Homo sapiens: one gene and its partners. The protein of the gene in region 2 purifies or fractionates together with the protein of the main gene of each other region. This does not show direct contact. Each region holds a gene or a part of one and is shown on either strand. Other genes may lie near its edges. The genes, in order: AZGP1, SERPINB3, MYB, RNLS, LGALS7, JADE1 and ANXA2.

Region 1 (4,147 bases), on a different chromosome or scaffold from region 2:
CAGTTCAGGCAACACACCAGGTGGGGGTGGGGGGCTGGGGAGAGACCTGGGACGTGAGCCCAGACAGCTTGAGAGCTTTCAGAGTCTATGCCAACAGCACCAACCAGTGCTGGGTAAACACCTGCTTTTATCATCAGAACAAAGAGGCTGTGTCCCCTGCCCTATGAGGTCCATTTCTGAGAGTTGTGGCTAATGGGCAAGAAGGTTGGGGCTTTAGAGATTTGGGATAAAGATATCAAACACCAGAAAGGTAGAAAGAAGTGATCAGATTAGGGTTACTTAGGTGATGATATGAACTCTTCCTAGAACTGAGAGAAAAAGAGAGCCTTCCTTTACTCATATGAAATCACAAATAATTTCTATCCAATTTGGAAGTACACTTTGGTGTAGTTGTGACAGCTTCCTCAGGACTCAGCATAAATTCAAACAAATAATTGTCCTTAGAAGAGATGCTATAGAAGAGATAGAAATATATTCATATTCTGTAGCTTTTTTTTTTTTGAGATGGAGTTTTGCTCTTGTCACCCAAGCTGGAGTGCAGTGATGCAATCTCAGCTCACTGCAAACTTTGCCTCCTGGGTTCAAGGGATTCTCCTGCCTCAGCCTCCCGATAACTGGGACTACAGGCTACAGGCATGTGTCACTACTCCTGGTTAATTTTTTTTTTTTTTTTAAGACTGAGTCTTGCTCTGTCTTTCAGGCTGATGTACAATGGCTCCATCTCGGCTCACTACAACTTCTGTCCCCCAGGTTCAAGCGATTCTCCTGCCTCAGCCTCATGAGTAGCTGGGATTACAGGCATGTGCCAGCACACCCAGCAAATTTTTGTATTTTTAGTAGAGATGAGGTCTTACCATGTTGGCCAGGCTGGTCTCAAACTCCTGACCTCAGGTGATCCTTTGGCCTCAGCCTCCCTAACTGCTGGGATTACAGGCATGAGCCACTGCGTCCAGCCTAATTTTATATTTTTGGTAGAGATGGGGTTTCACCATATTGGCCAGGCTGGTCTCGAACTCATGACCTAAGGTGATCCATCCTCCTCAGCCTCTCAAAGTGCTGGGATTACAAGTGTGAGCCACTGGGCCTGGTGCTTTTTTTTTTTTTTTTTTTTTTTTTTTTGAGATAGGGTCTCACTCTGTCACCCAGGCTGAAATGCAGTAGTGTGATTTTGGCTCATTGCAGCCTTGACTTCCCAGGCTGAAGTGATCCTCCCACCTCAGCCTCCTGAGTAGCTGGGGCTACAGGCATGCACCACCATGCTGCGCTAATTTTTATATTTTTTGTAGTGGTGGGATTTCGCCATATCACCCTGGCTGGTCTGGAACCCCTGGGCTCAAGCGATCCACTCGCTTCAGCTTCTCAAAGTGCTGGGATTACAGGCATGAGCCACAGCGCCCAGGCTGTAGCTCTCTTAAGGAGGAACATATCTCATCTGAGACAAACCTGAAATGCCAAACCAAACTGAGTTAGCCCCTCTCTGTCTGTTGTATATATTGGAGTAATAACCTATTTGTCTTGATAAAGGGATTGCATGCTTGAATTGCAAAAACCTTTATTTCTTTTGGGTTGCCCAATGTGCAAGACTAAGAGTTATTTTGATAAATTTCTCACCAGGCTGACTGTCTCTCTGTGGGGTCGGGGGAGTTTTCAGGGTCTCACGTATTGCAGGGAAGGTTTGGTTGTGAGATCGAGAATAACAGAAGCAGCGGAGCATTCTGGAAATATTACTATGATGGAAAGGACTACATTGAATTCAACAAAGAAATCCCAGCCTGGGTCCCCTTCGACCCAGCAGCCCAGATAACCAAGCAGAAGTGGGAGGCAGAACCAGTCTACGTGCAGCGGGCCAAGGCTTACCTGGAGGAGGAGTGCCCTGCGACTCTGCGGAAATACCTGAAATACAGCAAAAATATCCTGGACCGGCAAGGTACTCACTGCTTCCTGCTCCCCAGTACTGAGCCCAGAATAAAAGACGATCTCAGGCTAGGAGCTCAGGCAACATCTTAGTCCGGTCTCATCTGTTCCTGGATGTCCCTCAGACCCCCAGCTTTCATCTTTTAGGATTTATTCCTTCCCTGGGATAATATAATTTGTGGTCCAAAAAGAACATCATCAAAATTTCAGGCAGAATGGGCCAGGAAGGCCATTCTTTCTTGATGAGTGTCCCCAAATCATCTCCAATTAACAGACAAGGAGCTTGAGGTTAGGGAGGTGAGGGTAACACTGTCTGTAAGAGGCAGAGCTGGGACTCAAATTCCAGATTTCAGATTCCAAATCCCATCGTTTTTTATCTCTACAATGATGCCTCCCATCTGGGTGGTGGAGAGAAGGGAGGCGTGTAAAATGTCAGCCCCAGAAGGACAAGAGCAAGCCAGTGTGAGCGGAATTGATGGCTGCAAGCTGAGACTTGGATTGGAGACGTAGTGAGACTCAGGATTGTGCAGTGCTGCAGGGAAGTGGTTGCTGGATAGAGGCATGGGCTGAACCAAGCAGCTGGACTGAGACTGGGGGACAGAACTCCAAAGCCCACTGAGATGTGGGAAAACATGGAGAAGCACACGGAGCATTCACAACTTATTGCCGTCAGAGTCAATACATGGGTGAGGTGGGGATTGGGCAAGAGGGAAAGCGTCAGCCTTCCCTGATATTCTGGAAAGTCTCCCGGGGCTGGGGGTGGGCAGGTACAGAGCTTCGAGCTCTGCTGATCGCTGACATCCAGGGGTGGGGGTAGGAAGAGACCTGGGCCGGGAGAAGTCCACCTCAAGCCTGCAGTGTCACACTCTATCCCTCCACAGATCCTCCCTCTGTGGTGGTCACCAGCCACCAGGCCCCAGGAGAAAAGAAGAAACTGAAGTGCCTGGCCTACGACTTCTACCCAGGGAAAATTGATGTGCACTGGACTCGGGCCGGCGAGGTGCAGGAGCCTGAGTTACGGGGAGATGTTCTTCACAATGGAAATGGCACTTACCAGTCCTGGGTGGTGGTGGCAGTGCCCCCGCAGGACACAGCCCCCTACTCCTGCCACGTGCAGCACAGCAGCCTGGCCCAGCCCCTCGTGGTGCCCTGGGAGGCCAGCTAGGAAGCAAGGGTTGGAGGCAATGTGGGATCTCAGACCCAGTAGCTGCCCTTCCTGCCTGATGTGGGAGCTGAACCACAGAAATCACAGTCAATGGATCCACAAGGCCTGAGGAGCAGTGTGGGGGGACAGACAGGAGGTGGATTTGGAGACCGAAGACTGGGATGCCTGTCTTGAGTAGACTTGGACCCAAAAAATCATCTCACCTTGAGCCCACCCCCACCCCATTGTCTAATCTGTAGAAGCTAATAAATAATCATCCCTCCTTGCCTAGCATAACAGAGAATCCTTTTTTTAACGGTGATGCGCTGTAGAAATGTGACTAGATTTTCTCATTGGTTCTGCCCTCAAGCACTGAATTCATCTGAAACTCTTGGTTTCCCCTGGAGGCCATGGTTCCTGGGCACCTTGACCTGGGCAATCCCAAGTGTGGCCTGAACCCCCTTTCCCTTGGGGATTGTTCAGGTGTCCCTAGACGCCTTGTGGTATTGTACCTAATACCCATGAAGGGAGAGGATGATATTACTTGCCAGTGTACACCCCCCTGTGATATTGTTCATAATGTCCAGAGTGAAGAAAGATGATATTACTCCCAATATCACAGAAGGTGTACACCCCCCCTTGATATTGTTCCTAATACCCAGTTGGGGAGGGGAGAATATCTCTCCCAATATACAAGGGGTGTTTAAACTCTCTGTGATATTGTTCCTAATATTCAGGGGGGACAAGGATGATATTACCCAAATATTGCAGGGGTTGTACACCCCCCCTTTGATATTGTTCCTAATATCCAGGGGTGGAGAGGATATTACTCCCAATATTGCAGGGGTCTACATCCTCCCCCCGTGACATTGTTCTTAATAACCAAAAGGTGAGAAGCTGACATTACTCCCAATACCACAGGGGGTGTACACCCCCTATGAGATATTGTTCTTAATATCCAGGAGGGGAGAAAATGATATTACTCTCAATAGCGCAGGGAATTTACATCCCCCGTCGTAATCTTGTTCTTAATATTCAGGAAGGGAGAGGATGATACGACTCCCAGTATCGCAGGGGGTGTGCACCCCC
Region 2 (4,943 bases):
ATCCTGATGTCTGTGTCTCTGAGTGGCCAAATGGAAGAAAGCAAGGCAGATGAGCCTGACCGATCCAGGTGGAGAGCATTTACTCAGAGTGCAATAGCTCCGTTTCCACAACTCTCCCCCACTGGAGTGTCCCAGACCCTAACAATACATCACTGAAGTGTGGATTTAGGGATAATCTTGTAATAAAAGAGGAGGTTGGGTAATAGAGTGAGTAAGAGTAATAAGTAATAAGATACCATCGATAAACTGGCACTGACTCAGTCACATACGATACATCTTGGTGGGAAATGTATGACTAATGGGATATTATTGGAATGGGCAGGCTTGGGTGAGTTCCTGAGAATAGTTGAGGAAGTACCAGGAAATACTGAATGCACAGGATGAAAGATAAAAACAAAGATCAGAAACATCATGGTTGAAATTACTGGAAAGAGGTCTGAGAAGCAATGAATCTCCTTCAGGGAAGCCTGCTCTGCAGTTTGCAAACCACAGCCTCTTCTGCTTCTGCCTTTTGCCAGATGATATTGACCTTCGGTGACCTCTTTCTTGCGCCAGCCCGCACTCCGCTTTTGCATTGCCTACATGGCACCAGTATAAAAATATGCATGGACAGGAGATACTGCATCTATTCAGGGTCTGGATTCAGCTTACTATAATTATAAATAACTAAATTTGGTAATATATAGTTACATAAATTACTCTTACTTCCTACTTTCTTCCTTCATATCTCAAAGGAATATTTAGATGCCATCAAGAAATTTTACCAGACCAGTGTGGAATCTGTTGATTTTGCAAATGCTCCAGAAGAAAGTCGAAAGAAGATTAACTCCTGGGTGGAAAGTCAAACGAATGGTAGGAGAGCCACCCATTATAGAAACACCTTTGAGAAATCTATGCGAGTGAGCCCTATGCCTGAAACTGCATGGGGGACCATGGGTGGGAATTGAGATGGCTTTGCAGGGAGGGAAGAAGAGGGCACTCCAGATGAAGAGTTTTTCCAAATGATTATGAAGAGAGCCTAGGGGAGCCAAGGAGGAAATCACAGGAAGCCAATTAGAAGAAAACATAGCCGGAGGATTCTTTGCTCATGTTCCTGGATGACAATAGCTTTGTGGATCCCTTGTCTCCACTCAGGTCCAATTTGAGATCATGTCCTTTACTTTAAATCAGAACCAATATTTTATGATGAATATTTAAAAGGAAACATTAGAAAGCATCTCCCTTCCCCTTTACTAATTGGGAAACAAGCAGCTCTCTGGTAAATCACCCTTTTGCCATCTGAACTAGAGCTGCCTGGATCACATCTCTAGCCACAAGTTCTGCAGGGATTATCACAGCTCTCTTCCCCATCAAGGGCAAGAGCTTAACAAATTCTCCATTCTATAGACATCTATCCTACCTCCCACCTCTCATTACAGGCCAAACTTACAGCAACTCAACATGAGAGTGAATAGGAAGATACCCCCGGAAGTAGTGTCTGACAGCACAGGACATGCGTTTCATATTACAGAGCTCATGTCACTTGTCCTAAAAAGCAGTCAGGGCCTACTTCCTCTGAATGGGGACCCCGTAGTTAAAAAAAAAAAAAAAAAAGTAGGAAGAGGAGGGAGGGAGAAAGGAAAGACACATGTTGAAAGAGTAGACAAAATCAGTTTATCAGTATTCCAAATCAGATGAATGGACTCATTCATACACAGAGAACGTGAACTCCTTCTCTATCACAAGAAGTGATGTCTCCATTAAGGGCAACTTTATACGACTGGAGCCTTGAAGAAAGCTGCATCTGGTGAACCACTGGTCAGTGAGTCTAACAATTCAAAGATCAAAGTCAGTGAGTCTCAAGTAGGGATTTGGGTCAATAATTAACGATCAGTCACGAACATTTGCAAAGCATCTTCCAGACAAGCCATTTGTAGCTTGTGTAAAAGACTCTTTTATTCTTTCCCTTGCAGAAAAAATTAAAAACCTAATTCCTGAAGGTAATATTGGCAGCAATACCACATTGGTTCTTGTGAACGCAATCTATTTCAAAGGGCAGTGGGAGAAGAAATTTAATAAAGAAGATACTAAAGAGGAAAAATTTTGGCCAAACAAGGTATTGTCTATATTTTATTTATATAATGTAATATGTTAATAAATTTAAACATTTCTGATGGAATGTACCATGACAAGTAAAAAATAAAATTGTTCATGTCTGTTTTTTTGTTGTTTTAGTCTTATAACTTTATTTAGTTAGGAATTCCTGAAGAAGCTATTGTCTCTAACTCATTACATTCTTGGATTATTTCTTAAAAGAAGGATGTGTTGATATCTCAATAATATTATCTTTTTGCCTTGTGTCTCACTTGGTATTTGTTGGACACATTGATTTATTGTAGAATACATACAAGTCCATACAGATGATGAGGCAATACACATCTTTTCATTTTGCCTCGCTGGAGGATGTACAGGCCAAGGTCCTGGAAATACCATACAAAGGCAAAGATCTAAGCATGATTGTGTTGCTGCCAAATGAAATCGATGGTCTCCAGAAGGTAAGAACTTGCATCTACAACTCTTCCTTCTACTGCCTGACATTTTTCCAAAGATACCAAGTTTAAACAAGGTAAAAGCTGGTGACCGAGTTGCCTCAAAATAATGAAAAATTCTAAATGAGGAATGATGACTCACCTTCATATTACAAAGATTTAAGCATAGGGCCTGACACAAACTGAAGGCATAGTTAATGATTAATTTATTAGAGTTACATGCATTGGATATCAATTTAATGATATTATTATGCAGCAATTTAAACTTGACTGGGAGAAATATATAGCAATGTGAGGAAAGTTTACGAATACACCAAGTAAAAAAGGGAATAGAAATTTAGGAATTTGGGGAATTGCAATTTAATAATTGCAATGTGTACTAAATAATGTATACAGAAAAATAAGATGAGCCTATTAAAAATTGACACATGTAGTAGGCTGTTGGCACAAGAAATAGTGATATATATAGTTCATTGTGTACAAAATAATGTAATCATATTTTTACATGTGTATCATACAGTTGTATACATACATATGTACACATTACATATACATAAAAACTTGATTCTGTTTATACACATACACATATAACCCAATGTATTTATATATCCAGGACTCATATTTTGCCTATTAGAATAATAATATCTAATAAAGTGAACCTTCTGTATTTCACATTTGTTGCCAAAATAAGGATTCTCCACATAGTCAATTCATTGTTAAGGTGTATTAGAAATCAACAGTTAGTCATATCAGTTTCTTTTTTCCATTTGTATAGCTTGAAGAGAAACTCACTGCTGAGAAATTGATGGAATGGACAAGTTTGCAGAATATGAGAGAGACACGTGTCGATTTACACTTACCTCGGTTCAAAGTGGAAGAGAGCTATGACCTCAAGGACACGTTGAGAACCATGGGAATGGTGGATATCTTCAATGGGGATGCAGACCTCTCAGGCATGACCGGGAGCCGCGGTCTCGTGCTATCTGGAGTCCTACACAAGGCCTTTGTGGAGGTTACAGAGGAGGGAGCAGAAGCTGCAGCTGCCACCGCTGTAGTAGGATTCGGATCATCACCTACTTCAACTAATGAAGAGTTCCATTGTAATCACCCTTTCCTATTCTTCATAAGGCAAAATAAGACCAACAGCATCCTCTTCTATGGCAGATTCTCATCCCCGTAGATGCAATTAGTCTGTCACTCCATTTGGAAAATGTTCACCTGCAGATGTTCTGGTAAACTGATTGCTGGCAACAACAGATTCTCTTGGCTCATATTTCTTTTCTTTCTCATCTTGATGATGATCGTCATCATCAAGAATTTAATGATTAAAATAGCATGCCTTTCTCTCTTTCTCTTAATAAGCCCACATATAAATGTACTTTTTCTTCCAGAAAAATTCTCCTTGAGGAAAAATGTCCAAAATAAGATGAATCACTTAATACCGTATCTTCTAAATTTGAAATATAATTCTGTTTGTGACCTGTTTTAAATGAACCAAACCAAATCATACTTTTTCTTTGAATTTAGCAACCTAGAAACACACATTTCTTTGAATTTAGGTGATACCTAAATCCTTCTTATGTTTCTAAATTTTGTGATTCTATAAAACACATCATCAATAAAATAGTGACATAAAATCATTTTTGCTTTACATTTTCTCTCTGGAAAGGGAAAGTGTCCAGTTACACACAGGAAAGACAATTTAGAGATATATTAATCACAAACAAAGGAAAATTAAAAACAGAGTAGTTCATGATGAGCCTGGAGTAGAAGGCATATCCCAGAACAGGAGGAGCCTTGTAAACCACATTAGGAACTTCCTATTTTATGCTAAAGGGATAAGAAACTCATTACAGGCTTTGATGGTTGTTTGTCAAAGAGGGGCATAAAATTATCATATCTTCATCTTGAAAATACATCTCTGGTTACTCTGATATCAATGGATGAGAGGAAAGAACAGTGTGGTTACCATATATAAATCAGGAAATCATTAGAGTATTGGGGGTGGAAATGAAGAGAAAGAAACAGCCTGGCAGAATTATTTAGGAAGTAATAGTTAAAAAAAGACATCTAAGTTTCTGAGCTATCTGACTGGAAGGATGGAAGAAAATGTTGTTTTTGAGAGAAAAAAAAGACCATGGGTTTAAATTTGTACTTGATGAATTGAGGTACTTTTAATATTCAAATGAATTTGCCTGGCAGGTACTTGAAGATATTGATCTAAATCTCAGAAACAGAATATGATCTGAAGCTCTAAATTTGTGATATTCAACATAAATACTTTAGAGTTATTGGGATAAACATGGTAATTGTAGCTAGAAGCAAAGATAAGATCCTAGGGAGGAAGGATAAAGTTAGAAGAAAGAAGAATCTGGAATTGACCTTGAAGTATATCAATATGTGTAAAGATCATGA
Region 3 (4,246 bases), on a different chromosome or scaffold from region 2:
GTATCAGTACATTTGTGAACGAATTCCCCTTACAGCATCCGCACTCAAATGCCGCTAGACCCTGACTGATGCATTCTGGAAGATTCCTCCCCATTGTCCATGTGATTGTTTGTGAACTATTTAACTCAGTTTGCTTGTTCTTTCTTTTCCATTGTAATGATTCCTGGCTTCTTCACACGAAGTGCATATGGTGTGCAATTATTAGAGGAAAGTGCCTTGAGTCTGCTCCATTTTCTTTAAAGTGTAACTGTTGTCCATAGTGACAAATAAGAGAGAAAACAAAAGTAGGTAAAATAAGGGCACATCTTTATTTTGCTACAAGGCAGTAAGTACACCGTCATATCTCAAAAGTTCAGTGCTGGCCATCTTGCATCAAATGTTCTTAAGGCAGTGACTGGCTATCAACCACAGTTTCTGTCTCCCCAGTTGCAAACACAGGATCCATGCAACAGTTCTGAGACCATACACTTAGAAACCACAGGGGATGCGGATCAAATGCAGAACTCCCAAATTATAAAACAGTCAGGCTACACTCAAAACAAAACATAGAACATCAACAACACACATCTCCCAAAAAAGAAGTGCAACGCATGCTTGTATAAACCAACAATAACAAAAAAACCACAATAAAAAATGCAGAGTCTCCCAAACAAGTTTTCAAATGTATTGCAGAAGGAAAAAAAATGTATATATATATAAAATTAAAAAGTCTGAAATACTAGTGCATAGTCAATTACCTAACACCAAGTTTCTTTTCTTTCTGTCCAAGCTCTACTGCCCCTCTGATACTAGCAGCATGTCTACAGGCTAAGACCATAGCAGCAAAAAACGTTTTTCATTTGGCATTTACAAAATTAAATTACTGAATAAAAATATAATTTTTTATAAAACTATTTCTTACAGTAATAATTTTTAAAGCAAGCTAACAGAAAACTCATAAAATGGTTTGGTACAATAAATGTACCTTCAATGTCATTAACCATAAATGAGCATTTACAATCTGGATTAAATGTCACATGGTATTAAGTCTACACTTAGAGTAATGCTTTTACTGATTTTTAAAAATATATGCATATGTTTAGTGATCGAGAAAAGTGAAATACTGGAGTACCTTTTAATGTGTCAAATTTCAAAAAACCCATCACAGGAAAAAATACTGATCTGTTGGATCCTTTAAAATACAGATAAATCATTTTATGTTTTTTTTAAAAAAATCTGCATTAAGATATTAACAACTGGCTACAATTCATTACCTAATAATTTAGGTAAGACTGTTATTTATTTTTAAAAATCCTTTTAGTTGGGTGAAATCCAAGAAGACTTCATTCAACTAAATGCACTTGGTGCTGCTCTCAACTGTTGTACCACAACAAAAATAGGTTCTTCTCCCATTCATGAAAAGTTTCATGTTGAGGAATGATATATCCCAAGTCAACTTGAAGTGTTCTGAAAACCATAATGCTTTTCTGGAAATGTCTCACATGACCAGCGTCCGGGCTGAGAATGCATTCACGTATTTACGAGCTTGACTGGAAGATGTCATCTGCTCCTCCATCTTTCCACAGGATGCAGGTTCCCAGGTACTGCTACAAGGCTGATGGAGAAAGGGATGGCAACAGGAGCGTCAGACAAAGAAGCTCATTCTATAGACCCAGCAGGGCCAGCACTGACCAACAGATGGCAAGTGGTTGACACCAGGAAGGCTTTGTCAGATAGAATCTTACCTCCCTGGCCCCCAGAAATCCGGTGTTCTTAAGGGATATGGATGATCAGAAATTATTTGTTAAGAGGGAAAACCCATTCCAAGCAGCTTCATAAGATATAATCCCATCTTCATATTTTAATGCCTTCCGTCTATTAGGCAATTTTACAAAGCTGGAGACAGGAATGAGCATTATTCTCCAGATACCTAAAGTGAGCTATGGCCATCTACTCACTAAGCAAACTGCTGAGTGCTGTAGCCACAGTGCAAAGCAGCTCATGCACGCACTGGAATTGATCAACACCTGCTAAGTGTCATATATATGTTTTCATCAATTACTTTAGAAATATTTATCAGTATAGTTTAATTTTTTTCCTTTTTTTTTTGAGACAGAGTCATGCTCTGTCATACCAGGCTGATCGGTATTGGTGCAATCACAGCTCACTGTAGCCTCAGCCTCCTGGGCTCAAGTGATCCTCCTACCTCAGCTACCCAAGCAGCTGGGACTACAGGCACGTGCCACCAAGCCCCACTAATTTTTGTATTTTCTGTAGAGACAGGGTTTCACCATGTTGCCCAGGTTGGTCTTGAACTCCTGGACTCAAGTGATCTGCCGGTCTTGGCCTCCCAAAGTGCTGAGATTACAGGCATGAAGCCAGTATAGTTTAATTTTTAAAGATACACTAGAAGATACAAGATGGACCTAATATCTAAGGACAGCATCTCCATGCCAGGGACAGTGGCACTTCACATTTCACATGCATTATTTCATTAAAACAGCACCATCACCTCGGGAGGCAGGTTCATTCTCTCTCTAGACAGGCTCGAGAATGGAGACAGAAAATGGAGGTAACTTGCCCAAGGCCACTCTGTAGGTAAGTGGTGGACTGGCTTTGAACTTTGCTGTCTCCAGCTCCTGCGATGCCTCTGTGTTGCCTCAAATGCAAACATGTACTATTTATGCCCCACTTGGTTTCCAAAAGGACGTAAGATGATTAGAAAAGAAATACAAGACAACAGAGTTTAAAAATGTGTATAAAGAAGAGTCATAACAGGGAAACAAATTTGGAAAAAATAAACACAGTTGGCCCTCTGCATCTGTGGGTCCCATATCTGTGGGTTCCACATCCATAGATTCAATCAATGGCAGATCAAAAATATTCAGAAAAAAATAATTGCTGTGTATTGAACATGTATAGGTGTTTTCCTTGTCATTATCCCCTAACAATATAACAACTATTTCCATAGCATTTACATTGTATTAGCTATTATAAGTAATCTAGAGATGACTTAAAGTATACAGGAATGAACGGGTACAATGTACATTATTCCAACGATAAATACACTCACAGCCTCGACTTTGACCACTATGCAATACATCCATGTAACAAAATTACACTTGTACCCCACGAATGTATACAAATAATAAAAAAAATTATATGGTAAGATGTGTGTAGATTATATGCAAACACAATGCTATTTTATATCAGGGACTTGAGCATCCCTGGACTTTGGTGTCCTTGCGGGTTCTGAAACAAATCCCCCATGGACACTAAGGAACAACTGTAACATGAAGATGGTATGAGATTTGCACACGAAACACCAGCATAAAGCACAGTGCCCCAGCTAGATGTAACCTCCTGCTTGACTCTGATCTCTCTAGCAGTCAATGCAGAGAGGGGAACAGAAACAAACAGATATAAGATTTGGTGGCTGTAAGCTCAAAAGGAAACCAGTGGGTTAGAAAAGGCACTATTCCTGGTATTGCTATCTGGAGGGATTATTTTCCATGGGACAAAAGAATAAGAAAGGCCTTAGCTGTTCAGAGCCTACAGTGTCCTTTATGAGACAGAATGGACACAGGTGAAACAGGAGGAATAATAACAGGCCGTGTGCGCAGGTTTGTGGTGTTGTCCATGGGAAGAGGGGATGGGACACTGAGGAACTGTCAAGGCAATGCTGTGGGGAAAGGGTGAAAACAGCTAAGATTAGGGGAGAGAGAGGTGGAAACGCAGGGATGTCATCCAGGGAGCGAGATAGCAGGAAAGAGGCAGGAAGCTGCAATTTGTACATTGCCAGTGGGAGGGGATGTGGAGTGGGGGAGGGCTGAGAAAGAAAGGGTTAAACGACAACATAAAACAAGCCCTCACTATAGGCACCGCATGCCTCTAAGTGTTATTGATATAACTCCTCTCATTTAATTCTCACACAAAACACCTGTGGCATAGCTACCATTCACTGCATCCATTTTACAGACCAGGCAATTTGAAAGGAAGAGAGGATTTAGGCGCCATACTCAAGGTTACCTGGGTAAGAAATGATGGAGCAAGAATGTCACCCATGGGACCACACCCCTGGTGAGTACCAGACGCTGCCTCTAATTCGAGTTCTTATCAGAAACAATAAAAGGAACCTGGGAAGTTGTGTGCTCAGGGCACCAGGGCCTTGGAATCCAGGAAAGTGCTGAGATGGGGTGTGAGAGTCACCAGACTTCTTAGCAAAGAAACATAATTCTACTAAAACAAGGTATGGGTACAGTGGTAG
Region 4 (4,246 bases), on a different chromosome or scaffold from region 2:
TTTCCCACAAATAGGTTTTAGTGAGCAGCAGTCAGAACTGCTCAGGTGGGACCTGAAGTGATGTGAACCATCTCTAACTGACTACACAGCTTGAAGTAAATAGAAGAATGCTTAACCTGGTTTTCATGCCATCCTCTAGCTTCTCTAAAAAGGACATCGTTACGGATGAGTGCCAGGATCACCTGCTGGGAGAAATTTTGAGACAGAACCACCCAGACTCACTTCCCCTCTATCAATTTTAGAAAGAAAATAGGCACAAAAGTAAAAAGAGAGAGAATAATAAAAGTAAATATTACAATACAGAAGCCATCCTAGCTAATGGCATCTGCCACCTAAACCATTTTTTTCTAATAAATTGATCTTGTCAATTTTGACAGGTTACTTTGCAAATGTTGACTTTCTGGATCGCTAGCCAATGTCCTTTTTAGGTAGATGATAAAATAAAAACAAATAAATGCAGCAACAGCCCTCCCTATTGGTAGGACAAGCTAAATAAAAGCTGCTCACTCTGTGTCCTGGAAGCTAAATTCATCTTTTTTGAATAATTTAGTAACATGGGACCTTATTCAAAAGCAAAAGGACCTGGCCCATCATTTTCCATGTCATAGGCAGGAACCATCAGGTGACCAATTTCCCAGGTTGCATAAAGAACTAAGGTGGTATTACTCTTCAATATCCACTTCCCCCTATGTCAGGAATTAACTGATGAAAGAGGGAAACTAGGGGCACAGGGAACTATGAGGTTGTTCTATTGAACCATGTGTCTACTGACACGTAGCACCAGGTGGGATGGGTACAATCTTCATACTATAGGAAAATAATCAATAAGGAAAGAGAAGGCTCTACAAAATAGATGTTAAATTGGAGAGTATGAGCACCTCTCATTGCCCTCCATGAGAGACTTAATAGAAAAAAACAACATGATTAATTGCAAAGGCACTTCAGTTCTGTTACCAACTAGCCAAGCCACCTTAGACAAAGTACCTGAGTCTCATTCTTCGCATTAACAAATAGGGATGATGATTAACTCCCTTGAAAATTTACTGTGAGAATTAGAAACTACATACGTAAAGTACCTCAGGTAGTATTAGATAAATAGTCAGCACTTAATAACTGATAGCTAGAATCACTTTTGCTATTGTCAATTCTCACCCCAGCATAATGACAACTAGTATAAAAAAAGAACAAAAGAAAATCATGTTTCACTCACTCAAGAAGATTGTATTAATGGAGAAGGCAGGCAGTCAGTGAAATTGATGCCAATAAATACAGCTTTCTCTGCAATGAGGTTAATGTGAACACATCGGACAATAAATTAAAATAGAACATAAGGTCAAGAAGAAAGCATCTATTTCCTTTACCTTTTACTATTTGTTCTGGGAAATTGGTCTAGTTAAATATTGGCTTTAAAGGTTTGAACCTATTCTAAAGCATGCCTGATTAGGCATATCCCAGACAAATAATTGCCCTGGGAGTCTGGTCCCAATCTGAATGACCACTGGTTGGTCCATCAGATTGTGGGGTTTTAAACTCAACTAGATTCCAAAATATAGAGTATTTTTGAAAATAGTTGGCAATTTGATTTCTTAAAGTAAGGAATATATGAAGGTCAGCTTCATTCAAGTACAATATTTTTTAAACTAACATTTTTCAAGAGATTACTATGTGACTGGCTTACTACTTGCTTGAATTTGAGTGCATTATATCTTTCATTCCTCACAACACTTTGTAGCAAGAACTTCCATTACAATATTCTGTAGTAAGTACCCTCATTTTTGCATTTCATTACGCTCATTTTTTTCAATGAAAGAACTGAGGTACAGATTTTAAACTTTCCTAATATTACATGAACAGAAAGGGATGGTAGGACATTAACTGGAATCCAGGTCATTCTGATTTCAGGGACTGTCTTAGCTTATAGTGTGGAAAAACCAAAATGTTTTTGTGGACCATTTATAGAATAGAAAGGTTAAAGGGACTTAAAGAATGTTTAAAAGGGATATAATTATAAAATTAAAAATATTATAGATAGGGTCCAACAAATCCTATAGATAATAGATCGGGGTAGAGGAGAATCTCGAAGTATTACAAGAATAACATTAAATAGCATTAAAATAAACAAAGAAAAATTTATATAAACTCAAGTTAAATAGACCATGAACTTGATATAAAATAAATTTTTAACATTTATATCACTCTACCTACTATGTAGGAGGTACTATTAGTTTCTGAGTGAGGTACAAGGAATTAAAAATAATCTCTTCTCTGAAAAGCTTAAAAAGCAAAATTGGAAGTTAAAACGTATGTATTCCCCCAAACACATAACAAAATAAGGAGATAGATGCAATGTATTCAAAGATGTTTCTCTGCCAGGACATCAACTCCATGAAGGCAAGGACATTGGTTCTTGTATCATTAGTACCTAGAACAATGTTTGGCATTATGGTAAGTATTCAATGAATGTTTATTGAACAAAAGGATATGTGTATGTATGTATATATGCATGTGTAGGGGTGAAATTTCAGTAAAAATCAACTGACAAAAGGCATACTAATATGAGAAAAAGCATACAAATTTATTTAATCATAGTTTTGCATGACACTGAAACCTTCAGACTGAAGACCCAAAGATACAGGAGTCCATTTTTATGCTTAGATTCAACAAAGTATGGACAGCTCTGCAGCAATATGATTGGACAAAGGGTTATATCTATGGCTAACAAACTGGTAAAACCCACCAAGGCCTGTCTGTCTAGATTCTTCTTGTCCTCTCTGTGCAGCATTCTTTCTTTATGGTTATAGGTCATGACCCTCTCTGGAACTGTTGTGAGCTACAATCAAACACGGTAGGTCAGATAATTTCTTTATGGCCAGTTTTTACAAAGGAAGGCAGGGGAAAGCTAGAGTGATAGTTTTAGGTTTTATGGCTGGTTTGGGGGGAAAAGGGGTTCTTATTTCTACGACCTGCCTTGGGAAAAGAGATTCTATTTTCTAGGGCTAGCCTCAGGGATGAATGCAAGGCCAGAGATAGGAGGGCAGGAGAAGGTCAGAGAGAGCTACTTCTGAGGGCTCCATTTTGGGATATCATTTTCTAAGCTCCTGCACATGCATGCATGCACGCATATCAGTTAGTAAGTACCTGATGATTTCAATAGGTATACTCATCCAACCTGGGTCAGGGGAAAATCATGGTGGAAATGAGATTTTTTAAAGTGATATGGCCACACTATATGAAGCTGATAGTAACATTCTACAAAACGTCCAATAGTGTCACCATCTGTGATGGTCAATTTTATGTGTCAACTTGACTTGGCCATAGGATGCCTACATATTTGGTCAAACACTATTCTGGGTGTTTCTATGAGCACGTTTTTAGAAGAGATTAACATTTATTATCAGTAGATCAAGTAATGCAGATTGCCCTCCCTAATGTGGGTAGGCCTCATCCAATCAGTTGAAGGCCTACATAGGACAAACGCATTGATCCTCCTTCACATAAAGGAGAATTCTTCCTGCCTGAAAGCCTTTGAACTGGCTCATCAGCTTTTTTCCAGCCTTCAGAGTAGAACTGAAACATTGGCTCTTCCTGAGTCTTGAGCCTGCCAGCCTTTGGACTAGAAGTATACCACCAGCTTTCCTGGGTGTCTACCTTGCTGGATCACCCTGCAGATCTTGGGACTTACCAACCAACATAATCATGTGAGCCAATTCCTTATAATAAATCTCTCTCTTTATCCATACTCACATATACACATGCATGCACACATACATACACACACATACCCTATTGGTTCTGTTTCTCTGGAGTAGTCTAACATACCATCTATATACTGAATCTCGAATGGAGAAATGGTCTAAGCCAGAATGGTATTTATTATGTTCTCATGTTGTTTATTCAATCTTACTGACCTCTCTGATGCCCAGTGTCAAGGATTCTTGGGGTTCTCAATAAGTAATATTTGATGATAAAGATCAAAACAGTAATTATGCTGGAAATGGCTTATAAAAAAATTCTTAGCCTATATCCTTTCTCAGTTATCTCAACTTGGGTACTTAACTGAATTATGATTTATCAAGAAGCTTCATTCTCCTTTAAAAATAATCATCAATTATCCAAGAAAAATTCTATTTTCTTTTTTAAAAGGTCCATTTTCAAAACGCTCATAAAATATATAAGGAACAAATGAAAATCCTAATAGAAAATGGGCAAAGGTTATGAATAAGACATTCACAGAAGAAAACTGCAA
Region 5 (4,895 bases), on a different chromosome or scaffold from region 2:
ACGCCCTGAACCCTGAAAGTCACACTGGGGCCGGGGCTGCACTTGGCGTCCGCTTCCCCTCCCGTCACAGTGACCAGGGCTAGGGCCGCGGTCGGGGCCGTCGGGGAGAGCGGAGGGCGCGTGGGAATGGGGCTCGCTGCGCCACGGAAATCCCGCGCCGCCCTTCGAGTCCTCCCAGCTGCTCCGCAGAGCCGGGGCCGCTGCCATCGCGTCTGCCCCGAGGGTGCGCAGGCGGGTACCTGTCCCGACTCGGGGAACAGCGGGAGCCCGGAGACGCCCGTCGGGCTTCCCAGCCCCACCTGGGACGTCTCTAGGGGCGGGAGGCCAGGAGAGAAGAGGGTGGGAGAGATGAGCTGCAGGGGGATACGGGACCCAGGGACCCGGGATCTTATAACACGCTTTCCACCCGTAGGATTGGGGCCCACAAATGACCAGAAAGGTGGGACTCATTCGCCCCCTTTGCAGATGGACCCATGTTGGCGCCCCTTAGATCTGCAGTGGGGGCACCAGGACCTGCGGTGAGCGCCTCTGCGCCCCAAACGCCAGCAGGTCCGCCCGACCGCATTCCCAGCTGGCTTGCTTTGCACAAATGCTGCGTCAGGGCACGCCCCACACCCACTCCTTCCCAGATCGCGACCCTCACGCCTTCGCAGACAGAAAGTGTCCTAAGCACAGGCAGGCTCAGAGCCCGCCTCCGCCTCGGATTCGCTGTGTGGCCCGGAGCCAGTATCTTGGCCTCTCTGGGTCTCAGTTTGCTCATCTCAGTGAATGGGACACAGACACAGTCGCGCTGCGGGCTAACGCTTTATTTGCCAGCCAAGGCCCCGGGCCCGCCTGGGCTTCTGCTCAGAAGATCCTCACGGAGTCCAGCTGCACGTCCCCGCCCACCTCCACCAGGCGCACGCGCGCCAGCGGCAGGCGGTGGCGGAAGTGGTGGTACTGGGCGTCCCCAACCACGGCCTGCAGGGGAGGGTCGGTGGTGAGGATTCCGGAGGCCCGTGCTGGGTGGCCCTGGGGAAATCACTCATCCCCTCTGGGCCTCAGTTTCCTCACTGGGAAAATGGGGCTATTGTTCATTCTAACTCTTGCGTGAGGATCAAACGAGTTGACTGTGTGGCACAGTAAAAAGAGGCTTTTTTAGTGCTGGTAATGGATATTCTCATTTCAGCGACCATTACCCGCTATTAAAGCGCAGAGGAGGGAGGTGAATTCGCGTAAGCTGTGGGTGGTGGAGGATCTGCCGCCACTCCCACCCGCCAATCCTTGCTAGGACGAGTTCCTGGGCGCTGTTTCCAACCCATCCCTCCCCATGCCTCAAACCCCGGACCTCAGGAAGGAATGAACTGGGAGTAGGGTCTGGGATGGCGAGTCTGGGCCACGCCTTCCCGCTAGGACGCCCACCCCTTGGACACTTGGCTGGTGCTCGCCTCGTCCTGACCCTGCTGTCTCTCTGTCCCTCGGACCCAAGTGGGAGTTGTTTAGGCGAGAGAGAGGGTCGAAGGACACCCTTCTCCGCCTTGGCCACGACTTCCCTACCCCCCTCACCCCGCCCCGAACCTCCCTGCCTTCCACCAATAGCCTGGCTTTGCCCAACCCTCTGCTCCAGGGACCTAAGTCTTGGCGTCCACGCCCCTGTCGCAGAGACGCACCTTGAAGCCGTCGTCTGACGCGATGATGAGCACCTCGAAGGGCTGCCCGCGCTGGAAAGGAACGCCCGGCCCGCGCTCCTCGCGGCCCCAGGAGCCTTGCTCCTTGCTGTTGAAGACCACCTCCGACGTGTCCAGCCGGGGGTTGAAATGCAGCGCGGCATCGGAGCCCTGCTCCTCCCCGCACAGCAGGTTTACATGGAACCTGGAAGAGGAGGATGGTGGCCGTCAGGGCTCAGAAACCACCCAGACCAAGAAATGTTGAGGGTGAGGAATACCGATGTCTACAATTTACTTTGAATGAATAAGTAAATGAAATGTTGGCTGGGTGCAGTGGCTCACCCTGTAATCCCAGCACTCTGGGAGGTGGAGAAGGGAGGATCGCTTGGGCCCGGAAGTTAAAGACCAGCCTGGGCAACATAGCGAGACCCCACCTTACAAAAAAACGAAAGAACAAACAAAACATAAACCGCCCAGACCAAAGTGAAGGTCTTATGGACTGGCACTCCCCATTCCCAGAGTACCCCCAAATTAACAGGGACCTGAAGACAGGCACACACCGCAGAAGGAGAGGTAGGCGACTAATGACCAGGGAGCTTAGATTCCCAAGGCAGCCAAAATATCATGAGGCCCTTGGCAGAAACCTACCCAGACCAAACTCACTACGCTTAGGGCAGGGTGCCCTCATTTCCAAAGAGCCTGGGAGCTGCCCAGGAGGTCTGGGTGATAGCCAGGGTGCTCCTGATGCTCAGGGAACCCTCAGCTTCTACAGGACAAAGAATAATACCAGGAACCCCAGTATTTCCAGGGTACCTCAGAATCCAGAAGGCCCGAAGTTCCTTAGCCAGGAAGTCAAAGGATGGCTTGGCAAGGACTCCCAGGGTCCAGGGTGTCTCCAGGACTTGGAGTATTTCCAGAGTTCCCTGGGACTCAGACATGGAAGTCATAGGACTATATCTAGGAACCCTGAGATTACCCAGGGACCTCAAATGCTTAGGGAAACTTAGGGACCCCAGCCACAAAGGCACGGGGGCAAATACGAATACATCAGATTTGAGGTCAGAAATGGCCTCGGACTCCTAGCCTGGTGGATACAGGTGGCCTCGGGCCCCTACTTCTGGACTGCAAAAATTGGGAGTCAGCTGATCCTGAGACCTGTACCCTTTACCCCTAGGGCCTGGGGCCTCACCTGCTGGCATTGGGAGGAACCAAGCCGCGAATTCTCAGCACCGTGCCAGGGCGGATGCCCTCGGGCAGTGAGGACTTGTGGGGGACGTTCTGCAAGAGTGGGGTGCAGGGGCCACTGTGAGCCGGTGAGACCGAAGGAGGGAGGCAGAAGGTGGGTCACCCCTCAGAGGAGCCGACCAGGGCTGAGACTGGCAGAAATCAGTGGAAGAGGAAAGGGTGGCGGAGAGGCAGGAAAGAGACCAGAAACAGACAGGGAAACAGATGGGGAGAGCAACAAAGACAAACAGAAAGATCCTCAAAGAGGGCCCCAGAGGAAGCCACAAAGAGGTAGAGGGGACAGTCGGGATGGGGGTTACCCGGAGGCCACAGCCCAGGCCAGTCCGTGGCACACTCACTGCCCACTTGCTCCTTTGAAAGAGGAGCCCCCAGCCCCCTCCCTGCTTGGCCCCGCCCCGGGCCCCTGGAGCACTCACGGACATGGCTGGGACCGGGTTGGGCAGCCGTGGTGGTGGGGCCTGCTGGGGACCTTAAATAAAAGCAGGGCGGGGCTGGCCCTGATGACTCACCCCACCCCTTCCCACCCACCACCCACACCTGGCACGGACCCTGGCCCTGGGGCAAGCCCGGCGAAGCGGGAGTGGCACCTCTTCTTGGGGGCCCTGATCCCCCCATCACCCAGGGCCCGGGTGCACTGCCCCTCTCCTAGGAGCTGATAATAAGAGGGAATGTTTAATAGTAATAAACTCACAGCAGAGAAGGCTCCTTGTGCCACTGCCCCTCCACCCCTGTCTTCCCGCTGCCTGGCACACGGAGAGCCTCTATCTCATTTCATGTATTTATTTGTTAGTAATTTCTCTTATTTTATACACAGACATATTAGGTCCTGGGAGGCCAATCTGGGTGGGAACTCCAGACCCTTCTCTCCAGCTGAGAACCTCCTGCCTGGACTGATCCGTGCTGAAATCTAAGCTTCTGCCTCTGTAATGGAACAGCGGCCACAATAGGAGCACTAGTGACTGACAGGGTGGCTTCATGGGTTCACAGGGGGCCTGCCTGATCCCCTCAGCGCTGCACCCCTGGGTCCTGGAGTGTGCCCAGTTCATGGAAGTCCTCAGTCAGGAGGGGTGAAAGGAGGGGATCCACTAGGACTATGCCTGTCATTTCCAAGGCCCCTCGGCTGCCCAGGAGATGCAGGAAATCACTGATTGGGACCCCATCATTCCAACAGGGAGGAGTATGGGTCACCCCCATTGTACAGAGGAGGAGGCTGAAGCTGGGATGGGAAGCGATTTGCCAAAGGCAGGAGCGTGCAGGACCCGTTGCCCTGACCTCTGGCTCTCCTCACCTCTGCTCGCACCTCTCCTGTGGGTTCTGTCTCTGGGGCTGGCTGTCTCACTCTGTCCGTCTCTGCCCCTAACTCTGTCTACCACATATTCCTGTCCCACTTCTCTCCTTCAAGTCTCTCTTCTTCCTCCTTCCAGGACTGCTACCATCATGCCACCAAGTTTGTAGGTCAGGATGAGGTGGGTTTTGGGGTGGTGGGTGGCCTAGCATTCCATCACCACCTAGATCAAAAGCAGAGCAAGGCGGGGACCCTCCCGCCAGGCCCGAAACAGCCCCCTTGGGCCTAAGACTCTGCAAGAGAACTCAGGGTTGGGGAATTGGCTTGGTGGAGGGGCGGGTAGGGCTGAAAGATGCTTCTGAAAGGCAGGGATGGTGTGGGAGCTGAGCAGAAACCACTCCTAGCAGCCCAGCAGCCCTCCTGGACCTTTTCCACTCGCCACTCCAGCTCCTGCCCCACCCAGCAGGCTGCTGAGAGGCCTGGGCAGAGGCAGGCTGGCAGTGGAAAGTTTGGGTGGAGACAGCAGACCCAGAACCATCCTCCACCCTCTGCGTCCCAGGCCCCCAGCCTCTCGCCCCCTCCCCACACACTCCAAGGCACCAAGCTCAGGGACCAGTTCTTGGGAACATGAGCTCAGAGAGGGAGGCTAGCAGCTGCATTTCAGTAGGGGCTGCAAGCACCCCCATTCTGCAGAGGACAAAACTGAGGCTTAGACAGGG
Region 6 (4,246 bases), on a different chromosome or scaffold from region 2:
ATCTGGAAGTTAGGTGACAGGAGTAGATTTCAGGAGGGCTTGGGAGCACACAACTTTAAGAAGACACAGTTGCTGATGTGGTGGGTAGCCATGTCATTCCCAAGGCTGCCACTTCACTCTCATTCCTTTCCCCTAAAAGATGCAGTAAATGTGAGTTCAGCAAATGAGTATTTATTCAGATAAAGACGTGCTACCACTGCACTCTGGCTAGCGTTATGGAAAGTGGCCAAGTCCTGGGGGCAGTCCTGTAGTCACTCAGTGGAATGGTCACCTTTGAAAATCTGGTAGTGGCTACAGTGTCCCCTGAACAAAAGGCACGTTCAACTTTAGTGCTGCAAACAGTTTTGGATTCAAGAAAACACTGAAACCACTTTTAGATGTCTTAGAGCAGTGTATCTCAGGGTGTTGTCCCTGACCCAGAAACTTAGGAATGCAGATTCATGGGCCCCACCTCCAAAGGGTGGTTCTGTTTTGTGGGTACCCCATGTTTCTGTTTGGGAACACTGCTTTAGGGGAAAGGGATGATCAGGTTTAAGGTGGTGTGAGAGTGCACCTGGAGATGGTTTAAATGTTTTTTAAGATACCTCCTTGCAGGCAGTTGGGAGAAGATAAAGCAGGGGAGGGAGCTTGGTGGAACGGGTGCAGGAAGAAGGGACAAGCTGGATGTGTTTTGAGGATGGGAGAGCATCAGTCCAGCTCTGCAGGTGGAGGTTGCTGAGCGTTGTCCTATAGGGAACTTTATGCATAAGGGAAGTCAGGTTTAGAGTCCTCACTACTATAAAGTGGAGTTGGTCAGGGCTGATTTGTTCCGATTGAAAACCATGCCCTTTGCTTTTTGGGTTTACATTTAGATATTTCCCATCAGAGATCATGAGGAATAGCAGTGGGATTTTTCTATTTAGCAGCCATGGTGTGGTCAAAGCTACCAAAATTAAATTTGAATAATATACAAAGTTCAAATTCCCTGGCTTCCCCGTTTTCCATTTTTAAGGATAATTTCAAGTAAGAGAGATGTAAGTATTTCTATTACATGTCTGATTTGAATATGAGAGCAACCTGTCTGCTCCTAAGATGTCAGGATTTGTTTCCATTTTTTATTTCCAGGAGTCAGATTCCTTGTTAATGTAAAAATGGTTCTGTTTCCTAGAAGTTTTGAATCTGCTATGGATCTAGGTCTGGCCCCTCGTTCTTGAGCTTCACTCTTAATTTCCCCTGGGTGGAACAATATCGAAGAGAGGAGGATGTTAGCCACTTCCATTCCCAAGTTGGTGAGAATTTCTATAAAGGACACCTGCTTCTTGGATTGAGGGTGTGCAGCTGTCAGAGAAGGGAAGAAACTACCTTAACTAGGCTGATTGACATCCATGTAATATTTACTATGAGACAGGGAGAGTGTTTTTATTCTCAATTCTTTAAATTTAAAATAAGACAGGAAATGTTAGTGACATAAGGGATTGTTAGAGAAAAAAAGATGGGAAGATCCGTAAAGTGAATTTGTTAGGGGCAGGAGAAGCCTGACTTGGCATTTTCCTGTTTAGGCCAGGAGATATTACCATAATGCAAATGTGAAAGCCTGTGTTCTGTCTCTCTTAATGCTTCATGTCCTCTTGCAAATGAGACTGCCTTCAGCACAGCTGGAATTATTAGGGTTTAGTCTACACTTACGCTCTACACCAGAGTGCAAAATCTTTTGTGTCTTCACAAGGCTTGTTGATGCTTGTTGCTGTCCTCACTGCCAAAAGAAAAGGTTGGTGACCTTTGGACTTTTTCCACTTAAAGTAGGGTGATACTACTTTATTGAGTTTATGGGGAAAAAATTATAAAGGTGTCAGGGGAAGAGTTTGCTCATAATGGGATATTTTTAGGAAAGTGAAGGCATGCCTGTAGGAGCTAATGGGAAAGATGTGGTCAGATAAAGATGCTACCACTCCTGCCACTGAGATTACTTAGGAGGTCTTGTCCACATATTCCTGAAGAAGGGTTTAATTGTGTATTTGGTGTGCTGTGTCTGACATCTGTGTTTGCAGGTCCGTGTAATCTAATCAGGTTGACCAATAGAAGATTTTAGGACTGAAGGATTAGGGGAGTTTAGAGACTAATTCTTTAAGTTTTGTGTATTGAGTGATGACAGGTGGGGAACAAATCTAAATGTTGATTACTGAGCATAGGTTAGGGTTATGTGATCCAAAGCAGTCACACATCAGATAGGAAGTAGAGCCAACTCTTAGCACTGGGTCTTTTCAGTTACAAGCGAATCGGGAGAGGGCAATACCAGTTTTTCAAGTGATGATGCAGAGAACTGGACTGGAGATGTCTAACCAGCAAATCATTGGCAAAGCTGGAAATTTCCTAGGCATTCGCACACCTCATAGCAACACATAAGCTACCTGCTAACTCCAGGCCTTTCAGTGAGTTCAGTGTGCAGTTGACAAAGACATTTACTAGGATTCTTGGTAACCATTTGGTCTTCCAGTGGGCCTGGTGCAGGGGGCTCCACTTTGATGACCCTTGGCCCCATGTTTACCCAGTTCAGCCTCAGAAGATAGTTGATAAAGTGCAGAAGTGGCTTCTGAACTGCTTTAAAGCCATTGGCCATCCAAGTAATAGAAGATATTGATGCAATAATTAGCAAAGTCGACTGGCAAGAGGTTGCAAGTTTTGACTTGGACACCAATGGCCTCTGTGCCGGGATGGGTTAGGTGTGATGGAGGAGGCAGGACTTTTGTAGGAGTTCTCTAGGTGTCCCTCCCACTCCTGTGGGTCCCTAACCCTCTTCGATGTTGCTTCTGCCTATGTTGAGGGCTATATGTGGAATCCTTCTTATCTGCCCAAAAGGAGATCAGAGATTGGATAAAATGTTTAAAGTACCTATTGATTTCAAGTATCTGTCAAGGCCCTAGTAGGAGTAATTTCTCTTAGGTAAAGAAATTTAAAAAGCACCAAAGTACTGTTATACTGTATTGCTTACTTAGAATCTTTATTCTCTACATTCTAGGTTCGGAACCTCACTTACATGGTGACCCGCAGGGAAAAGATTAAACGGTCTGTGTGCAAAGTCCAGGAACAGATATTCAATCTTTACACTAAGCTTTTGGAGCAAGAAAGAGTTTCAGGTATGCATTAAGCCCTGGTAGGTCAAAGTATAGGGCAGGGGTTTGTAAGCTTTAACACTGTTGAGGAAGAAATAATCATTTCTTAATTTTCTTATAGAAGAATTTAAGAAGCATAGACGTTCATATTTAAAGGAAGTCTTTAATTTGAGGCATCATGTTTAAGGGAAAAAGCTATGAATTTGCCCTCTATAAATATGGGTGGAATCCTGTGTTCTCTGCTTACTGAGCAAACACATGAAAGTCTTTTGAGTCTCCCTAATTTCTTCATGTGCAAAATGGAGATATCGCAAGCTACCTCTTGGAATTGAGAGACTAAAATGAAACAGTGACTTATATATTACACAGTACTTGGTAAACACATCATGGGGATACCTAACAGGTTTATATTCAGCCTTGGGCTCTATCTGTAACATGGTAAATATGGTCAATATATGTTAAGACTGTACTTAAGACACAGTCCATTTTTAGATAATGTTCACAGTAGATTTTTTTTGTGTAGATGGATTGTTGACTATTTCTGAGATTGAGCACCAAATATTTATTTAGTGTCTTCTATTTTATATTGCCCTGGGCTAGGCAAACAGAAAAAGAAAACTAGGGTATATACTTCCTCTACTCTGGACAACACATCAGTTACTTGGGAGATCAAGGGCAAAGATCAAGTTGGGCAGGTTGTTTAACCTCTCTGAGATTCCGTTGATCTTAAAGTTTGTTTTAGAATCAAGACCCCTTAAGTGCATTTGAGCCCTATATTCTGTGATCATAAGCCCCCAAAAGTAGGTAGTATAAGGATTTCAGAGAAGCAGAGCTGCTGAGTGTGGATCAGGCAGAATTAGGGACCCATGGAACAGGTAGGTCTTAGACTGGACTTCATTGGAAGATAGTCAGCCTCTCTCCTGCCTTGGACTGCCCTTTAAAGTTCTAGCTGCACCATTCTTGGTGCTTGCGTTGTGCAATCATAGTTGATTCACTCTTGTTTTTGTGCATTTGTGGCTTTTTGTCACTCCATCTAGATTATTATGGTGCACAGAGAACAAAGAAGTTGTTATAACCTGTTGTGTTGAAATCCAAATTCTGGTTTATCTAACCAATTATGTGCGACTAGAGGGAGCTCGGTCATCTGAAGAAATAAA
Region 7 (4,246 bases), on a different chromosome or scaffold from region 2:
ATCTCAGTTCACTGCAACCTCTGCCTCCCGGGTTCAAGAGATTCTCCTGCCTCAGCATCCCGAGTAGCTGGGATTACAGGCATGCGCCACTACGCCCAGCTAATTTTGTATTTTTAGTAGAGACGGGATTTCTCCATGTTGGTCAGGCTGGTCTCAAACTCCCGACCTCAGGTGATCTGCCCACCTTGGCCTCCCAAAGTGCTAGGATTACAGGCGTGAGCCACCGCGCCTGGCCAACATCAAGTTTTATATAAATGCAATAGATGCACACACATTAATGTATGTTGTACTGCAACACATTTGGACCCTTTTCTTAGTGTGGGTCTGCAGCATTTGAACAGTCCGACACTGCCCTCTGCTGATATACATGGGTAAAGTCTGCGCTGTAGATGAGGGAAACCATTGGTCTTGATTTTTTATTCCGAGTCTGTTTTCTCTGATGCCACTGTTCCTGAATTATGAACAGTCTGAGCTGTAAGCCTGTCACCAGAGCTAATGTCACAGTTCAGTTGTCATCCTTTTCCCAGAGAACACAAGAGTGAGGGTGCTTCGGACACTGGGCATCTCCAAAGCCTGGAATTTGATAGCTCAGGGCTGCTGTAAGATTTGTTGTTAAGTCTCTTTCTTCCTTTAGTTCTTCAGCTTAGCCCAAGCTGTGCTCAGTTTATTTTAGCGGACTTGTCTGAGTTTCCTAAGTAGACTGTACTGCAGAAAAGACGTCATTAAGAATGATAAAATGTCGACAACATTTCATGATCCTGGTTGATAAAAATAGCGCTCCTGAAAACCGAGTCTGTGGACCTTTGGAGGCAGGGATGAGTCAGCCTCTCCTAGGTTTCTTCTGACCATCAACACTTCAGATCAGTTTGTCTTATTTTCATCAAGAATCTATTTAGTTGTGATTCGAGTGGCTTTACTGGTATCTATTACTAGGTATTAGGGACTTGAAACAGACCTTTTTGAGCTGTCAGTCACTGTTGTAATCTATGTAATTGGGCCCAATGGAAGGTGCTTTAACTGCTGAAGCTTTGACCCTGTGCCAGCTCTTCCATTAGCTATCACAGTTGAATACCCGTCCAAAATCCATAAAGCTTGAAGTGACATTAACTGAACTATGCTTAAAAAAAAATCTGTTTTGACTTCTGGCAGTACCGGTGGCAGTATCTGCCATATGTTACAGTAGAATTTGCCCTTGTGATAGGAATTGTGGACAGTCTGTGGAGAGTTTGGGCCGGGCTTTGGAAATTGCCAAGGTCACCTTTGAATGTAGACATAAAAACACTATTGGAATTCTCAGATATTACCACTGGTATATCAGTGATGGAAGGAAACACATCTTACATTATTCTGCCTGTCTTGCAATTCTACAATGTCAGGATATAACATTTCTCCCACTGTGTGTTATTTTTAGACTATATTTCTATCATCCTTGAGATTGAACAACTGCCTCTCAAAATATTCAAAGATACTCGGTAGTCATTTAATAACATTTGTGTAGAATGCTGTATGGACCTTTTGCTAACAAGGGGAGAATTTTTGGCTTTGCTGGAACCTCTACAAATCATGATTAAAAACTCAGAAAGAAGAGCCATTGGCTCAAAGGTTAGATGAAGAATAAAATTCAAAATTAACCATTAACCTGAGGCTTAGCTTATATTATACAAACTACTTTTTCGGGGCATATAAACGCTAATAAGTTTAATTAATAGCTGACACGCTTTTCATGTGGGTAAGTTTCTTATTGTATTAACACCTTATAATTGATTTACATTTTAAACAGTTGTAATTCTACTTAGTTCAAAGTGATAGTTCCATATTCGGAAAGACAAGTATTAAAGAATCCTGATTATTAAATCTTGACTTTGATCATGAAGCCAGCTTTGAAATACATGTTTCATTGAGTCCTTTCAAGCTATCTGACATGCTCAAAAGTGTATATATTAAATTTGAATACATCACCCATCAAATTCTTATTCCTTAATAAAGTGTTGGTGTCTAGGTTTATTTGGCACTTCATTATTTCTTTTTGCTTCCCTAAAGTGCCTGAAGAGTGCATAATTATCAAGCAAAAATGGAAGGACAAGAATGAAATTTTTAACATTAACCCAATTTTACATTTCAAAGAGTGCAGCTAAAAATTTTTTCTTAACTATACCTTTGCCTGGTAAAAAGACTTACTCTAACAATGCTGGCTGCAAGTGACAACATAAAATTTCTGTATTCCTTTATTTTAGCGAGAATTGTTTAACAAAGAAATTTCTAATCTGTTAAAATAGTGAGTGGTTATTGTAGAAAGTGAAAAATAATAATAAGAAAAAGTTACTTTATCTACCCACAGCAAAAGGCAATTGCCAGTTTTAGTATTTTGGCATATTCTATTGCTGCCTCTTCCTATTCACTACTTTTTTTTTTTTTTGAGATGGGGTCTTACTCTGTCGTCCAGGCTGGAGTGCAGTGGCGCGATCTCGGCTCACTGCAAGCTCCACCTCCCAGGTTCACGCCATTCTCCTGCCTCAGCCTCCCAGGGTAGCTGGGACTACAGGCGCCCGCTACCATGCCCAGCTAATTTTTTGTATTTTTAGTAGAGATGGGGTTTCACTGTGTTAGCCAGAATGGTCTTGATCTCTTGACCTCGTGATCTGCCTGCCTTGGCCTCCCAAAGTGCTGGGATTACAGGCGTGAGCCACTGTGCCCAGCCCCTATTCACTACTTAAAAAAAAAAACCATATTAACAGTTGAACTCCAACATGCCAGTTCCACCATCTTGTGCTCTGGTGAAGCATTTTTTAAAGGAATAGAAAATGCCATTACTTTGTGCTAAGGGGTAGGAGTATAGATTCTTCAGAAGGAATGTAGAAAGCAGGATGCTAACAGACCCAATCCATGTTTGCAATTTACTTGATGGAGATCAGAGAAGTAGGCTAATGGTGGGGAAGCATTTCCCTGCTGATGTTCGTGCTTCCTGGTTCACAGGGGCTGGGAACCGACGAGGACTCTCTCATTGAGATCATCTGCTCCAGAACCAACCAGGAGCTGCAGGAAATTAACAGAGTCTACAAGGAAAGTGAGTAGCTTGATTTCTGTGATTCATCCTCTCAGCCCAATTTATGTGACTCTATCATGGCCACTGGGGTTAGGGTTCGGGCTAAGATGCCTGCATTAGTGATGTGCAGAAGTGCCTGCCACCTTGACTATGCAGGCAAGGTTGGCTGTGGTCCAAGTTTCTCTCCTTCACCTCCTCATTGCCTGCATTTTGATTATTACATTCCACTAGAACTTCTGTGTTAGAAGAAGGGTAGACAGGAGGGAAAGGAGAGAAAACAAAACTTGTTTTTAAACAAGATCGGATGAGGAGAAGTAGCAAGTATTATATATGGATTCCACTTATTGGGCGCTGTTCAGTGTCTGCTCAAGAGGTTGCCAACTCTGGACTGTGGATAATTGAAGAATTACAGCAAGAGACCCCTGTGGACTGGTGCACACTTAGCAGTATAGAAGGCTATGAGGGGAATAAACAATGCAACTTACATCGCTACTGCATTTCTTTTTTGTTTTACTTTTTAAAGTTATTATCATAGTTTTACATATTTTGGGGGTACATGTGATATTTTGGTACATGTATTATATATAATATGTAATTATCAAGTCAGGGTAATTGAGATATCCATCACCTCACACATTTATCTTTTTTTTTGTATCAGGAACATTACAGTTCTTCTCTAGCTACTGTATTTCAATATAGATGCTATTTTGAATATTGAAATATACTTTCATTCAAAAGCATTGTTTAATTCTTAGTAGTTTTTGCCGCTGTGCATTTTCTCAGTGGACAGTAAAGCACAATTGTGTGTGTGTGTGTGCGTGTGTAGACCTCCAATTTTTTTGATGTTCAGAACAAGTACTCACAGTCAGGAGGGCTGGGAGCCAGTATTTAAACTACACGAGAGGTCACCAATCAACGGTGAGCCTGAGGATCCCTGATTTGATCTAGCCCTGCTGCCCCCTGTTATGGATAATAACTCTGGCTCTGATTTCATGAGGGCGAAAATCATTCTAGTGAATCCTTCCTCTGTTTGGGGTTAAGGAGAATGGATATGTCCAGCTGACGTAGCTGTTCTGCTTCTCAGAGTCTTAGTGGGAAATGGGGAGATTGGGGTGGATGGTTGGCTACACAGGCAGAAAGCATAAAACCAGATGTATTTTCCTCCAAGTGTACAAGACTGATCTGGAGAAGGACATTATTTCG

The links.
Region 1: the proteins of SERPINB3 (region 2) and AZGP1 purify together in Homo sapiens (affinity purification with mass spectrometry, with the first as the bait; one large-scale study listed by BioGRID). This does not show direct contact.
Region 3: the proteins of SERPINB3 (region 2) and MYB purify together in Homo sapiens (co-immunoprecipitation; one large-scale study listed by IntAct). This does not show direct contact.
Region 4: the proteins of SERPINB3 (region 2) and RNLS purify together in Homo sapiens (pull-down; one study listed by IntAct). This does not show direct contact.
Region 5: the proteins of SERPINB3 (region 2) and LGALS7 purify together in Homo sapiens (affinity purification with mass spectrometry, with the first as the bait; one large-scale study listed by BioGRID). This does not show direct contact.
Region 6: the proteins of SERPINB3 (region 2) and JADE1 purify together in Homo sapiens (affinity purification with mass spectrometry; one large-scale study listed by BioGRID and IntAct). This does not show direct contact.
Region 7: the proteins of SERPINB3 (region 2) and ANXA2 purify together in Homo sapiens (affinity purification with mass spectrometry, with the first as the bait; one large-scale study listed by BioGRID). This does not show direct contact.

The regions. Positions count from the first base shown.
Region 1 is NC_000007.14:99,965,935-99,970,081, reverse strand, and holds the end of AZGP1 (zinc-alpha-2-glycoprotein precursor), read left to right. Parts: intron 1-1,651; coding exon 1,652-1,927; intron 1,928-2,795; coding exon 2,796-3,079; 3' UTR 3,080-3,352; downstream 3,353-4,147. UniProt on the Homo sapiens protein: Stimulates lipid degradation in adipocytes and causes the extensive fat losses associated with some advanced cancers. May bind polyunsaturated fatty acids.
Region 2 is NC_000018.10:63,654,422-63,659,364, reverse strand, and holds the end of SERPINB3 (serpin B3), read left to right. Parts: intron 1-734; coding exon 735-852; intron 853-1,952; coding exon 1,953-2,095; intron 2,096-2,378; coding exon 2,379-2,534; intron 2,535-3,303; coding exon 3,304-3,708; 3' UTR 3,709-4,168; downstream 4,169-4,943. UniProt on the Homo sapiens protein: May act as a papain-like cysteine protease inhibitor to modulate the host immune response against tumor cells. Also functions as an inhibitor of UV-induced apoptosis via suppression of the activity of c-Jun NH(2)-terminal kinase (JNK1).
Region 3 is NC_000006.12:135,215,212-135,219,457, reverse strand, and holds the end of MYB (transcriptional activator Myb), read right to left. Parts: intron 4,060-4,246; exon of another isoform or gene 3,958-4,059; intron 2,578-3,957; exon of another isoform or gene 1,595-2,577; coding exon 1,478-1,594; 3' UTR 286-1,477; downstream 1-285. UniProt on the Homo sapiens protein: Transcriptional activator; DNA-binding protein that specifically recognize the sequence 5'-YAAC[GT]G-3'. Plays an important role in the control of proliferation and differentiation of hematopoietic progenitor cells.
Region 4 is NC_000010.11:88,576,470-88,580,715, forward strand, and holds part of RNLS (renalase isoform 1 precursor), read right to left. Parts: intron 1-4,246. UniProt on the Homo sapiens protein: Catalyzes the oxidation of the less abundant 1,2-dihydro-beta-NAD(P) and 1,6-dihydro-beta-NAD(P) to form beta-NAD(P)(+). The enzyme hormone is secreted by the kidney, and circulates in blood and modulates cardiac function and systemic blood pressure.
Region 5 is NC_000019.10:38,770,180-38,775,074, forward strand, and holds LGALS7 (galectin-7), read right to left. Parts: upstream 3,339-4,895; 5' UTR 3,314-3,338; coding exon 3,308-3,313; intron 2,925-3,307; coding exon 2,836-2,924; intron 1,852-2,835; coding exon 1,650-1,851; intron 961-1,649; coding exon 847-960; 3' UTR 789-846; downstream 1-788. UniProt on the Homo sapiens protein: Could be involved in cell-cell and/or cell-matrix interactions necessary for normal growth control. Pro-apoptotic protein that functions intracellularly upstream of JNK activation and cytochrome c release.
Region 6 is NC_000004.12:128,864,861-128,869,106, forward strand, and holds part of JADE1 (protein Jade-1), read left to right. Parts: intron 1-2,995; coding exon 2,996-3,113; intron 3,114-4,246.
Region 7 is NC_000015.10:60,355,964-60,360,209, reverse strand, and holds part of ANXA2 (annexin A2), read left to right. Parts: intron 1-2,973; coding exon 2,974-3,064; intron 3,065-4,211; coding exon 4,212-4,246. UniProt on the Homo sapiens protein: Calcium-regulated membrane-binding protein whose affinity for calcium is greatly enhanced by anionic phospholipids. It binds two calcium ions with high affinity. May be involved in heat-stress response.